Linked DNA regions of Homo sapiens. The gene in region 1 interacts genetically with each later gene. Each region holds a gene or a part of one and is shown on either strand. Other genes may lie near its edges.

The links. Genes that interact genetically often act in the same process or in processes that back each other up.
Region 2: changes in MAP3K10 (region 1) and PRKCZ together harm fitness more than expected from each alone (negative genetic interaction), as found in Homo sapiens cells (one large-scale study listed by BioGRID).

What each region holds. Positions count from the first base shown.
Region 1 is NC_000019.10:40,201,426-40,204,925, reverse strand, and holds part of MAP3K10 (mitogen-activated protein kinase kinase kinase 10), read right to left. Parts: intron 442-3,500; coding exon 293-441; coding exon of another isoform or gene 269-292; intron 1-268. UniProt on the Homo sapiens protein: Activates the JUN N-terminal pathway.
Region 2 is NC_000001.11:2,179,411-2,182,652, reverse strand, and holds part of PRKCZ (protein kinase C zeta type), read right to left. Parts: intron 2,340-3,242; coding exon of another isoform or gene 2,127-2,339; exon of another isoform or gene 1-2,126. UniProt on the Homo sapiens protein: Calcium- and diacylglycerol-independent serine/threonine-protein kinase that functions in phosphatidylinositol 3-kinase (PI3K) pathway and mitogen-activated protein (MAP) kinase cascade, and is involved in NF-kappa-B activation, mitogenic signaling, cell proliferation, cell polarity, inflammatory response and maintenance of long-term potentiation (LTP).

The DNA of each region.
Region 1 (3,500 bases):
GGACCTGCACCCCGAGGAGGGGCTGGTAGTGGAATCAGGATCAAGGTGGAATCCCAGGGCCAAGGAATCCTAACAGGTTGTCCTGAGAGCTCTGGGCCTGGCCCAAACAAGGGCTGGGATGTGGGGGATGGAGCCAACCATGGGGAGGCTGTTTAGAGTCCAGTGGGTTCCAGCCCCTTCTTCCTCACTCCTGGGCCCACTGGTATGGATAGGTGTGAAGGGGAAAGGTCTGGGCCCACAGGTCCCTGCCACTCCAAGCTGAGCCTACCCTCGTCACGGGGCCCCGGCTCACCCTCCAGGAGGCGGGCAAAGGGCTCGGGGCACGTGGAGGGAATGGGCAGCGTCAGCTTATTCATAGCCACGCCATACGCCACGGCCAAGGCGTCGATCTCACGGTAGGGGACCTCCCCCGTCAGCAGCTCCCACAGCAGCACCCCGAAGCTGCAGGCAGGGGAGAGGGAGGGGTGATGTCGCAGCCCACCCCAATCCTCACCTATACCCAGCCCTGCCCTTGGTCCCATGCAGGGCTGCCCTCACCCCAACAGCCACCCCCGGCCAATGAGGTCACAAGAACTTGCTTTGACCTCCATGGCCTTGTTCTCCAATAGATGGGGTGGGTTTGGCTCTCTGATGTCTCTCCTTTGCTCGGCCTGTCTTCCCTCTCCCCTGCCTGAAAATCTTCAGGTCCCGTGTTCCTACTGGCCAAATCCATCTTTCTTATTTTTATTTTTGTAGAGATGGAGGTCTCACTATGTTGCCCAGGCTGGTCTCAAACTCCTGGGCTCAAGTGATCCTCCTGCCTGGGCTTCCCAAAGTGCTGGGATTACAGGCATGAGCCACTGCATCCCACCTAAATCCATCCTTCTTGGCCCTGGCCTTTGATGACCCCTGCAGCCTCACTTCCAAACACTCTCAGCCCATTCTAACCCCAACTTCATCTTGCAGCCACACTGAATACTGAGCAGGCCCTGTGCTTTCTAACCTCTGGCCTTCACACATGCTGTTCCCTTTGTGGAGAACACTCTTCCCTTGTGTAACTATTTGTCCCTCAAGTCTCAACACAGGTTGCCCCCTCTGTCAGGAAGCCTTCCTTGATTCCACAGCCTCCAAAGCTAGGTTAGAGGCCCCTCCTCTACGTTTCCCCAAAACACTCAGCACTTACCTCTAAAAACCAGTTAACATTATTTAACATTTATAAAGCACTTACTGCAGGCCAGGCACTGTGCTAGGCACTCGGTAATCCTCACAACAGCCCTGTAAGGCAGAAGGATTTGGTATGACCCCTGCTTTAGCTGATGAGCAGGTACACGCTCAGAGAGGTAAGGGGCTTGCCCAAGGTCACACAGCTAGTGAGTGGTGGAGCCACACTTGGACTCAGGTCTGCCTGCTGCCCACGACAGTGCTCTCAGTGGCTCCATGGTACCAGAGCGTGCGTCACTGTGCTGTGGTCCCTGCAAGGCTATCTTCCTCTGCAAACTCTACATCCTCCCAGATCCTGATGGCCATTCTGTGTGGTGTTTATCCTGGAGTAGATCCCTGGTCTCCCCACTATCCACTCATGCATTCATTCAACATATCCTTTTTTTTTTTTGAGACAAAGTCTCTGTCACCCAGGCTGGAGTGCAGTGGCATGATCTCGGCTCCCTGCAACCTCCGCCTCTTGGGTTCAAGTGATTCTTGTGCCTCAGCCTCCCAAGTAGCTGGGATTACAGATGTGCACCACCATCCCAGCTAATTTGTGTATTTTTAGTAGAGATGGGGTTTCACCATGTTGGCCAGGCTGGTCTCCAACTCCTGACCTCAGGTTCCGCCTGCCTCAGCCTCCCAAAGTGCTGGGATTACAGGCATGAGCCACTGCGCCCGGCCCATTCAACGTATACTTATTAAGTGCCTACTGTGTGCCAAGCACCATTTTAGACATTGGGAAGAGATAGACACAATCACTGCCCCCATATGCAGCTGACAGCCTCCCATTCTTCAGTGACAGTGCTGGTGAATTGAGCTGGCCACATGCTGCCTGCATGAATTTTCCATTCTCCTTTGCAGCTAAGCATGCCACATGACCACAGTTCTGGTACATGGGATGTAGGAGGGGGTGTAGTAGGCAACTAGCTTCCAGGAAGTATCCTCAAAAAGAAGGGGTGCCCGGCCGGGAAAGAGTGTGAGGTGGGATGATGGCTTGAGCCCAAGAGTTCAAGGCTGCAGTGAGCTATGACTATACCACCACATTCTAGCCTGCGTGGGAGAGTGAGAGCCTGTCTTTTAAAAATTTTTTTAAATGAAAAATAAATTTATAGTGGGTTAATTTTATATTATTTATATCTTAAATAAGATGAAATCTGTCCCCAAACACCCTATCCTGTAAAGACTATTGTTCAAAGAAGGAACAGAATGGACCCCAAAATAAGAGGTGAAAATCCCCACATACACTCTAGTCATGCCAAGGGCAGCCTGACAGGCAAGGCTTCTTGCTTCCTGTCTCAACTTATCCCTGTCCTGCGAAGCCGCGGCAGGACACATCTGCAGCTCAGCACAGCAGACAGGCACAGGAGCGCAGGAACAAAAACAACATGGGTAAGAAAATGAGGCCGGGCGCGGTGGCTCACGCCTGTAATCCCAGCACTTTGGGAGGCCGAGGCGGGCGGATCACAAGGTCAGGAGATTGAGACCATCCTGGCTAGCACGGTGAAACCCCGTCTCTACTAAAAATACAAAAAATTAGTCAGGCGTGGTGGCGGGCGCCTGTAGTCCCAGCTACTCGGGAGGCTGAGGCAGGAGAATGGCGTGAACCCAGGAGGCGGAGCTTGCAGTGAGCTGAGATCGTGCCACTGAACTCCAGCCTGGAAGACAGAGTGAGACTACGTCTCAAAAAATAAAAAGAAGGGGTGCCATTTTCCTTTTTTCCCCTTCTTGTGGTTGGAATGTAGACATAAAACCTGGAGCCTGGGGGGTGGGGGACAAGGGGAGGGAGAGCATTAGGCAAATACCTGACACACGCGGGGCTTCAAACCTAGATGATGGGTTGATGGGTGCAGCAAACTACCATGGCACATGTATACCTATGTAACAAACCCTGCACGTTCTGCACATGTATCCCAGAACTTAAAATTAAAAAAAAAAAAAAAAAAAAAGCTGGCGTGTGGAGCTAGGCACAGTGGCTCACGCCTGTAATGTCAGCACTTTGGGAGGCCAAGACAAGAGGACCTCTTGAGCCCAAGAGATCGAGACCAGCGTAGGAAACAAAGTGAGACCTCGTCTCTACAAAAAATTAGCCTGGTGTGGTGGCATGCCTGTAGTCCCAGCTACTAGAGAGGCTGAGGTGGGAGGATCACTTGAGCCCAGGAGGTTGAGGCTGCAATGATTTGTGACGGCATCACTGCACTCCAGCCTGGGTGACAGAGCAAGACCCTGTTAAAAAAAAAAAAAAAAAAAAGGCTGGGTGCGGTGGCTGACGCCTGTAATCCCAGCACTTTAGGAGGCCCAGGTGGGCAGATCATGAG
Region 2 (3,242 bases), on another chromosome or scaffold:
GGATGGGGCCGGGTGGGTGCAGCTGGTGAAAAGAAATGCAGCCCCCCAGCCCCTGCAGACCAAGCCGAACAGCCCAGCTCGCGGGTGGATCACAGGGCACCCAGCAGCCGCCTTCCCTCCGGAAGAGCCAAGAAGGCTTCCAAGACCAGAAATGCCCCCAGTGTGGCTGTGCCTGTCCCCGGTGCCCCGCCAGCTGGGGGGCAGCATACCCAAACAGATGCACCCTGCCCATGATGGCACCCCAGGGACCCCCATCCTCAGGACCCTCCAGTCGTTCAAGCTGGAATTGGCAGGTTTCTGCCTGTATAGGCATCGGCTTCAGAGTCTCAGGTGCTGCTTGGCAGGAAAATGCAGGGCAGGAGGGGCTGGGCCTCAGCTCGAGGCTCCCAGGTGCAGCCCCCCACTCCACTGCAGGGCCCAGGGGGGCCAAGAACAGCCACAACAACAACAAAAGCCAAACTGGGAACGGAATCGTGGAAAAAACCCTCATAGGCTTTTGGGAACTTACAAAGAAATGCCCACATCCATTCTACTAACATGGCATCTACTAACGTGGCATCTACTAGGATGCCACAAAACAGACAAATCCTTCCACGTAAGGCTGGACACGTGTCAGGGCGGTGTCTCAAAGCTGGGCCACAGGCAGCATCCACGGCCAGGCCACTGGGTGGAGGAGACGGTGCTGGGGAGGAGCCGGAGGGAGGGGCCGGGGCTGTTCCCTTAGGCAGAACGGCTCACCTGTGGTGTGCGCACAGCAGGATTGTGGGGACACAAGATGCCCCCTTCATTCATCAGTTACTTGTATTCTTTGTATGAAACACCTGCCGATAAAATGTGAAAAAGGGGCATTTCCTAAAGTACTTTCCCTACCTTAGTCCTGTGCTGCTTTACAAGGGTTTAATAAGCAGCAGGGGTGGGAACAGAGCAGGACCCAGCTGGAGCTGGCCCAGGGTCCTCCAGCCCCTGGCCCAGCCCGTTCTCTGCTCCGAGGGCTCAAGATTGCCTCAGTTTCCCTGACAGCATCCCCAGGGGCCAGCGTTACCTCCTCCTCTTGCTCAAAAGCCTTCAGTGCCCATCTCTGCAGCTGGCACGTGGGCTCCAGGTCGGGACCCATGGTGCCTGACACCTTTTCCCACCGCCGCCCCCTGCGCCCAACCCATGGACGTCCTGGCCTCTCAGAGCAGTGCGTTTGAATGCACGCTGGCCCCAGGTCGGACGCTGTGGCAGTAACAGGTGTTGCCCCTGTGGCTGCAACCACAGCAGTGACCTGAGATACAACAGGGGGCCCGTTCCGTGTCAATGGGGCTGGGGGCCCAAGGGCTCTAGTTCTGAAGGGACATCTGAGAAATAGCCTGGGGGAGGTGAGGGCTGGAGCCTGGGGAGGGCACAGCTGTGCAAAGGCCCCATAGTGGGTGTGTGCCTTGTGCGCTGGGGGCCACAGAGGGGCCCCATGAGACCCGAGTGAAGGGGCTGAGGGGGAGGAGGCTTTTGGACACAGGACGACCCTGCTGTCCGTAGGGCCAGGCAGGATGCTGGTGGCTTGGTGGAGGTGGCGGGGGTGGGGTGGGGAGAAGCAGCAGGGCTGGGGGGCTGGGCTAGGCCCCGCATGGCAGAGCATGGTCAGGCACAGAATGGACGAGCCCCACGTGCTGGGCAGGGCCTGGAGGCGTCCAAGGGGACAGCACGCCAGGGTCCACTTTGGCCATACTAGCCGGCCACATGGAAACATCCTGGAGCCAGTTCTTGGCAATGATGAGAGGAGGTCCCTGAGACCACCCTGCACTGTTGGGGTGATGACGGTGAGCCCTGCCACCGGATGCAGGGCTGGGCCCAGGAGGTAGTGCCCTGGGGGCAGCATGGGACTCCCAGGCTCCTGGTGCCCAAACCACAGGAAACGCCCAGAGAGCCCTGGGGTGGCAGCACAGCAGCGGTCATCTGAGCATCCCAGTCATCTGTGCGTTTGAGTCATCTGTGGATCTGAGTCGTCCGTGCATCCATGTCATCTGGGTGTCCGTGCATCTGAGTCGTCTGGGGATCTGAGTCATCCGTGCGTCCACGTCGTCCGTGCGTCCAGGTCATCTGTGCGTCCACGTCGTCCATGCATCCACGTCGTCCGTGCGTCCACGTCATCTGTGCGTCCACGTCATCTGTGCGTCCGCGTCGTCTGTGCGTCCGCGTCGTCTGGGTGTCCGTGCATCTGAGTCATCTGTGGATGAGTCATCCGTGTGTCTACGTCGTCCGTGCATCCACATCGTCTGTGCGTCCATGTCGTCTGTGCGTCCACATCGTCTGGGTGTCCACGTCGTCCGGGCGTCTGTGCATCTGAGTTGTCTGTGCATCTGCAGTCAGTCCCCATGCATTTTCATAAACAGGTTGGCCTTAAAGCCCCACCGAGGATCCACCCACTCAAGGCTCCAGCTAGAGGCCCCACGCCTGCCCTGTGCCACGCAGCATGGGGTGGACAGAGGGGTTCGCGGGTGGCCAGGCCAGGGCACTGCTGCCTTCTACACACTCCAGGCTTGAGAATTTTACGGCCACACAGGTTGGCCCTGGGTAGTGGAGCTGGCACCAGCCCAGCTGTGGGGCTTGTCCCTCTCCATGAGGTCACAGCTGTGATCCCCACTTCTGACGGCCTCCACTGCTCCACGTCTCCCATAACCGCCTCCCTCCTGCTCCCACCCGCTGCCCAGACCCAGCCATCTCTCTGTGGGCCTCTTGTCACCTGCCCTCCTCTGCGTCTTTCCGTTTTCCCCTCCCTGCCGCCGGCTCCTTGCGCAGCACACAACGTGGCTGGGTTCCTCCCACCGAGCTCCCAGGAACGTGCCTGTCGCACGTGGGAAAGTCCTGAGGCTCCCACCACACGAAGCATTAGAGTCCTTGCTCCTCCCTGGGGCCTCCCACCAGCAGCCCTGGGCCCGGGGTGGGAGGAGCAAACCACTCCTGGCCCTGAGGCAGAATCTCCCCAGCAACATGGGCAGCAAATGACTCTCAAGAGAATCGGCTGTCACCACGCAAACGTTTCCATCCAGGGGGAGATGAGTTAGCGCAGCACCGCCCGGCCATGTGGGACACGTGGGGTTGGGCAGCAGGTGGTGGCTCAGCTGTTAACTCACCACCACCTTTCACATCAGTGGGGAGCTGGGACCATGCTGGGAAATCCATCGCTTCAAATCTCAGACTCCTGATAGTCACTAGCACAGATCACGTGATCCACAAATACTCAGGCTTTGCAGTGTGCCAAG